Homo sapiens: one gene and its partner. The protein of the gene in region 2 interacts with the protein of the main gene of each other region in a pairwise test. Each region holds a gene or a part of one and is shown on either strand. Other genes may lie near its edges.

Evidence for each region.
Region 1: the proteins of SZT2 (region 2) and CRX interact in binary tests that used the Homo sapiens proteins (3 or more experiments, as listed by UniProt).

What each region holds. Positions count from the first base shown.
Region 1 is NC_000019.10:47,828,196-47,832,016, reverse strand, and holds part of CRX (cone-rod homeobox protein), read right to left. Parts: intron 1-3,821. UniProt on the Homo sapiens protein: Transcription factor that binds and transactivates the sequence 5'-TAATC[CA]-3' which is found upstream of several photoreceptor-specific genes, including the opsin genes.
Region 2 is NC_000001.11:43,396,344-43,400,164, reverse strand, and holds part of SZT2 (KICSTOR complex protein SZT2), read right to left. Parts: intron 1-3,821.

The DNA of each region.
Region 1 (3,821 bases), on a different chromosome or scaffold from region 2:
CTGCAATCCCAGCACTTTGGGAGGCCAAAGCAGGCGGATCACCTGAGGTCGGGAGTTCGAGACCAGCCTGGCCAACATGGTGAAACGTCTCAACTAAAATACAAAAATTATCCGGGCGTGGTGGCAGGCGCCTGTAATCCCAGCTACTCTGGAGGCTGAGGCAGGAGAATCGCTTGAGCCCGGGAGGCAGAGGTTGCAGTGAGCCCAGATCGTGCCACTGCACTCCAGCCTGGGAGACAAGAGCAAGACTTCATCTCAAAAAAAATAAAAATTAAAAAAAGTTCTAGGCTCGGCAATAAGACAAAAAAAGCTGACAGCATGCCATTTCCAAGTCATCTGGGAGTCTTGTCTAACAGACCCACCCAAAGTTTGCTTCATATTCCAAGGCAGCAGTCCTCAACCTTTTTGGCACCAAAAACTGGTTTCGTAGAAGATAATTTTTCCATGGATGGGAGTGGGCAGTGCCTTAGATTTTCATAAGGAGTGTACAACCTAGATCTCTCGCACGTGCAGTTCACAATAGGGTTCACGTTCCTGTGAGAGTCTAGAGCCACCGCTGATCTGACAGGAGGCGGGGCTCAGGCAGTAATGCTTGCTCACCAGCTGTGCAACCCCATGCCTAACAGACTACAAACCGGGGGTTGGGGACCCTATTCTAAGGGACTGTACCTGTATTTGATTTACTATTCTTTTTTTTTTTTTTTTTTTTTGAGACAGAGTCTTGCTCTGTCGCCCAGGCTAAAGTGCAGTGGCGCGATCTCGGCTCACTGCAACTTCTGCCTCCTGGGTTCAAGCGATTCTCCTGCCTCAGCCTCCTGAGGAGCTGGGATTACAGGCATGCGCCACCATGCCCGGCTAATTTTTGTATTTTTAGTAGAGACGGGGTTTCACCATGTTGGCCAGGCTGGTCTCGAACTCCTGACCTCGTGATCCGCCTGCCTCGGCTTCCCAAAGTGCTGGGATTACAGGCGTCAGCCACTACACCCGGTCTGTTATTCATTATTGATTAGAGTCTAGACTTCGACAAGGTAAATGGTAACCCCAGGAAGTTTGGTTGCAAATGATTTCTCTCTGGTAGAAAAGGTAACCTCAAAGGTTACAGTTGTATTGTCCTGTAGGTCTTTAACCAGTTTTGTATCTAACCTGGCAAATTTTCTCCAGCCCGTCTTTCCTGACTAAACCTATCAACTTCTGTTCATCAAATTCTCCTTTTTTTTTTTTTTAATGGAGTCTTGTTCTGTCGCCCAGGCTGGAGTGCAGTGGCACAATCTCGGCTTGCTGCAAACTCCACCTCCTGGGTTCAAGTTATTCTCCTGCCTCAGCTTCCCAAGTAGCTGGGATTACAGGCATGAGCCACCACACCCAGCTAATTTTTTGTATTCTTAGTAAAGACAAGGTTTCACCATTGTTAGCCAAGCTGGTCTCGAACTCCTGACCTCAGGCACCCGCCACCACGCCCAGCTAATTTTTGTATTTTTAGTAGAGTCGGGGTTTCACCATGTTGGCCAGGATGGTCTCAATCTCTTGACCTCGTGATCCACCCACCTCAGCCTCCCAAAGTGCTGGGATTACAGGCGTGAGCCACTGCACCCGGCCCAAATTCTCCTTTGAAACAGCTGGTTCCTTCATTCATGACTTAAATAAATCTTTGACCTGTGCTTATTATATATGCGTCAGAGAATCAGATTTGTTTTTTGGGGTTTTTTAAGAGACAAGGTCTCCCTCTGTCATCCAGGCCGGAGTGCAGCGGCGTTGCCATAGCTCACTGCAGCCTCCAACTCCTGGGCTCAAGTGATCTTCCCACCTCAGCCTCCCAAAGTGCTAGGACTACAGACATGAGCCACCACACCTGGCCAAATGTTTTTCTTTTTTTCCCATTTAATTGCACTTTGACAATAAGTGTTTGTGAATGTTATTTTATATATTGTATATGACCAAACCATATATATTTATTATTATTTGTGTTATTATATATTATAAATATTATAAAATTATAATATTTATATATTCAAAGGAAACAAGTATGGTGCTGGGCAGTATGTATACCTCGCAACCATTTGTGATTTTTAAAACAATGCAGATGGCCAGGTGCTGTGTCTCACACCTATAATCTCAGCACTTTGGGAGGTCAAGGTGGGCAGATTGCTTGAGCCCAGGAGTTCGAGACCAGCCTGGGTAACATGGCAAAACGCTGTCTCCACAAAAAAAAAAATACAAAAATTGGTCAGGCATGGTGGTCCGCACCTGTAGTCTCAGCTACTCAGGAGGCTGAGGCAGGAGGATCACTGGAGCCCAGGATTTGGAGACTGCAGTGAGCTATGAGCATGCCACCGCACACCAGCCTAGGCAATAGAGGAAGACCTTGTCTCAATAATAACAATAAATAGGCCAGGTGCAGTTGCTCACGCCTGTAATGCCAGCACTTTGGGAGGCCGAGGCAGATGGATCACCTGAGGTCAAGAGTTCAAGACCAGCCTGGCCAACATGGCAAAACCCTGTCTCTACTAAAAATACAAAATTAGGCAGGCGTGGTGGTGGGCGCCTGTAATCCCAGCTACTCCAGAGGCTGAGGCAGGAGAATCACTTGAACCCGGGAGGCAGAGGTTGCAGTGAGCCGAGATCACGCCATTGCACTCCAGCCTGGGCAACAAGAGCGAAACTCCATCTCAAAAAAAGAGTCATAATAATAAAGTAAATTTAAAAATAAAAATACAATAAAATAAAAATACAAAAATTAGCCAGGCATGGTGGTGCATGCCTGTAATCCCAGCTACTTGGGAAGCGGAGGCAGGAGACCCTCTGGAACCTGGGAGGTGGAGGTTGCAGTGAGCCGAGATTATGCCAGTGCACTCCAGCCTGGGAGGCAGAGTGAGACTCCATCTCAAAAATAATAAGTATTATAATTATGAATTAATAAACAAAATGAGGCATTGATTTTACTCATGTGTAGAATATACACTTGTATATGCGTAGAAAATTCCCAGGAAGGAAGCAAGCTACTGGCACCAGTGACTGCCTCTGGGAAGGAATGCTAAAGCCATATCTTGTCTCTATAGTTTGGATTACTTTTTAATTGTGTGTGTGTGTGTGTGTGTGTGTGTGTGTGTGTGTGTGTGTGTGTGTTCTTGTCAAAAGCAAAAACAACAATAAAATCTTCAAAAAAGCAAACAGAACATGAAAACCCTCTGAGGGTTCCTCATTGCCCTCATTAGGATGGACTCAGAAAACCTCTCACCCTCCACAGCTATTTGCATAAGCCGTTTCCTGGGCTAGGAACGCCTCTCCCCCACCCCAAAGCCCCTCTCACCAGCTAACCCCTTCTCCTCCACGTCTCAGCTCAGCTACTTTCCCCAGAGAAAGCAACCTACGCCCCTAAACTGGATTTTACACACACACACACACGCTCCCTACCTCCTTTTCTTCAAGACACAGCTTGTATTAAACGACATATTTATATGTTTGTTTATCTATCTCTCTCCCTCAAATTCTATCAGTTACCTGAGTTCAGGGACTGGTAATATCTCGGTTCCTGCCATGTCCCCAGCACCCCCAATAAATATTTGAAACATAAGAAAAAGAATTAAAAATGGATGGTGTTTATTGTGAGCTCCCACTCTTCCGTTCCTCTCACTGTCCTTTCCTTCTCATCCCTCACATGAGGAGGGGGACAGATTCTGTTTATTTTAAGTTGAGATTCTACTGTTCATTCAGTAAATATTTTTTGAATGCCTTCCCTGCTCTAGGAACTAGGAATATAGGAAGAAATAAGACCGCAGCTTCTCTGTTCTCATAGAATTGAACTTCTTGGTTCCGTTCCTAGA
Region 2 (3,821 bases):
AGTTTGAGAACAGCCTGGGCAAACGGTGAAAGTCCATCTCTAAAAAAAAAATACAAAAATTAGCTCGGCATGGTGGTGAGCACCTGTAGTCCTAGCTACTTGGGAGATTGAGGTGGGAGGATCGCTTAAGTCTGGGAGGTTGAGGCTGCAATGAGCTATGATCACACCACTGCACTCCAGCCTGGGCAAAACAGCAAGATTCTGTCTCAAAAAATAAATAAAAATAATAATAAAATGAAATTACACCTTGGGAGATACTACTCTCTGTTACACTGCTTTCCAACACTGTGTTGAGACAGGTCCTGGCTAGGATTTTGGATTCATCCTTTGAGTGAGTTTAAGCTACTAAAGGAATTCCACAAGACAGTAACATTATATCTGCATTAAAAAAAATTCCCTCTGGTGGCCGGGCACCATGGCTCACGTCTGTAATCCCAGCACTTTGGGAGGCCAAGGCAGGCGGTTCACGAGGTCAGGAGATCGAGACCACCCTGGCTAACACAGCGAAACCCCGTCTCTACTAAAAATACAAAAAATTAGCTGGGTGTGGTGGCGGGTGCCTGTAGTCCCAGCTACTCAGGAGGCTGACGCAGGAGAATGGCGTGAACCCGGGAGGCGGAGCTTGCAGTGAGTCGAGATCACGCCACTGCACTCCAGCCTAGCGAGACTCCGTCTCAAAAAAAAAAAAAAAAAAAAAATTCCCTCTGGCTACTGTGTGATTTAGAAAGCACCCTCCCACCGCAGACTAACAACTAGGGGAGATGACAGTGGCTTAGACTAGAGCTACTCAAAGTAGCCATTCTGTGAACTGTGTGAGACTGGGTCTTGATGAGATAATGCCAGGATGCAAAACCACCACTATCTTTCACGGTGAAAGTCTTATTATGGAAAACAAAAAGTCAGCTGAACTAAACAGTGAACTTAGTTGTATTTCAAGGGATCTTTAGGATAGGACAGAAAAGAACTGGTGATTAATTATAAGTCAGGACATAGGAGGAAAGTAACAAAAAGGAAGGTATCAAGGATGATTAAAGTAGCATTGGAAACCAATACGCTGCAAAATGATTTTTTTCTTTTTTTTTTTTGAGACGGAGTCTCGCTCTGTCGCCTAGGCTGGAGTGTAGTGGCGCAATCTCGGCTCACTGCAACTTCCGCCTTCTCAGTTCAAGCGATTCTCCCACCTCAGCCTCCTGAGTAGCTGGGACTACAGGGGCATGCCACCATGCCTGGCTATTTTTTGTATTTTTAATAGAGATGGTGGTTCACCATATTGGCCAGGCTGGTCTCGAACTCCTGACCTTGTGATCTGCCCGCCTCCACCTCCCAAAGTGCTGGGATTACAGGCGTGAGCCACCGCACCCAACCTACTGCAAAATGATTTCTAAGTTAGCTACAAAAAGTAGATAGTTATTCCTGACTACCACACCCCATCGAAAAGTCCCATCAAATTGTACACTCTTATCGCCATGCTCCTAAAAACAGAAAAGGGGTCTATTTATTGGCAAAGAAGGAAATCACAGCAATTACTCACCCTTTCTTTCTCTGATCCTTGGTTTTAGGGTGGGATACTAAACCAGGCAACCTCTCCTTCAGGTTTGACTTAGCTAGTGTGGGTGGGATATTATGTGTTGACTATGCTGGATACTGCCAAAGTTCTTATCTAAAAAAGCATGTACAAGAGACTTACTGGAGTTTTAAAAAAGAATTTTTTTGTTAAGGGATGGTTTGGGGCTCAGAGCATTATCAGAATAGGAAGGCTATCCTAATTCAGCAGTCATTTGTTTATCACTCTGTCTCCAGAGCCCAGTGCAGTGCCTGGCACATAGGATGTTCAATAACATTTCTCTAAATAAGTGAATTCGCTATGGTTTTTTCTCCCCACCACCACCTCTTCCCCTCTCGCTATATGTTCTAAGCACGGCAAACTGGACATTTAAAACTAATCATAATTAGTACAACTTTTCTCAAGATGAGATCACCTTAACACTAGTGTCAACACTACTTTCCTTTTGTTCTTTGGTACTAAATACTTTTTGTTTTCAAATGCCAGCCTGTTTCAGCTATGCAAGGAAAAACCAAGGAAAAGCGTTTTGGCCCACGTAAGGCCAGGGTTAAAAGGGGAAGAGCACATGGTTGTGGGTCAGCACTATAAGGACAGAGTTGGGCACGTGGTCACCTCATCTTCTAGGACTAAAATCACGGCAAATCTAGGTTTAATAAATGAACCTTTCCATGACTGTCTGCACTAAGTTAGGGTCCTATGTTGGGCATTCACACAGCACTCTGTATTTTTTCTTCATGACACCTGCCAGAGTTTATAATTAAGAATTTGTAGGGGCCGGGCGTAGTGGCTCACACCTGTAATCCCAGCACTTTGGGAGGCCGGGGTGGGTGGATGACCTGAGGCCAGGAGCTCGAGACCAGCCTGGCCAATGTGGCGAAACCCCACCTCTACCAAAACATACAAAAATTAGCCGGGCATAGTGGAGCACATCTGTAGTCCCAGCTACTTAGGGGACCGAGGCAGGAGAATCGCTTGAACCCAGGAGGTGGAGGCTGCAGTGAGCCAAGATTGCACCACTGCACTCCAGCCTGGGCAACAGAGCAAGACTCCATCCATCTCTCCATCTCAAAAAAAAAAGAATTTGTATACTTTAATGTTTGTTTCCTGTATAAGTCTGAAGATCCAGCGAGGTGGAGGCCATGTCTACATATTGTTTCTTTTCTTTTTTTTTTTTTGAAATGGAGTCTCGCTCTGTCACCCAGGCTGGAGTGCAGCAGTGCCATCTTGGCTCACTGCAACCTCCGCCTCTTGGTTCAAGTGATTCTCTTGCCTCAGGCTCCTCAGTAGCTGGGACTATAAGCACGTGCCACCACACCCAGTTAATTTTTGTATTTTCAGTAGAGACAGGGTTTTGCCATGTTAGCCTGGTCTCGAACTTCTACCTCAGGTGATCCACTGGCCTCAGCCTCCCAAAGTGCTGGGATTACAGGTGTTAGCCACCACACCTGGCCTATACATTGTTTCTTGCTGTAACCCTAGAGCCTAGCACAGTGCCAAGACATACTAAGTGTTCTAATAATAACTGTTGAATACATGTATGAACAAGGAAAACTAATCTCACAAGCTGTATTTATTCTGTTTCCAGCTATTCTTAATTTGTTACCAATAATTTCTAATTTTTCACTCTTCTATCAACATGGTTTTTGTTGACGAAGAGTTCCTGTCCTTTATTCACTTCATCTTTCAATCATTTATGGACAAGGTAAGCTATTCTATTTTTGGAGTTTTTCCTTTGCTTCCACAAACATCGTTTTTACCACATTTTCACTAGTATCTTCTTCTTTATTGTTCCTGGAACCCTGGGGGAGTGCAAATGGGGGTTCTAACAGATTTGCTTTATGTTCCATTAGCTTTGTTTTAGAAAGAACAGTGTTACAGAAAGAAAGTGTTGTGATTTGACAGCTAAGACTCTGGGTGAGCTTCCTCCTGTGTAAAAATACCAGCTAGCCCAATGATGTGTGAAAGCACCTTGTAAAAAGTAACGTGTATAAATGCACAGATTAGTAATAACAAAGTGTTGCTGTTTACCTCTCTTCTTTGAGTCAGAAGTCCTGCACAGCCATTCACTTCAGTGTTGTTTCTTTGTTTTTTTTGCCCATACCTGTTTAGTTGGTAGAGTTGGGAATGTCCTCACATAGAGCCAGAATCTGTCTTTTTGATAATATCTTGACCTACTCTTAAAATCTGTTGTCTTGAAAATATCTAACCCACTTTTTGTTTTACCTTCTAAGGCCACACAGGGAGAATCTGACCCTCT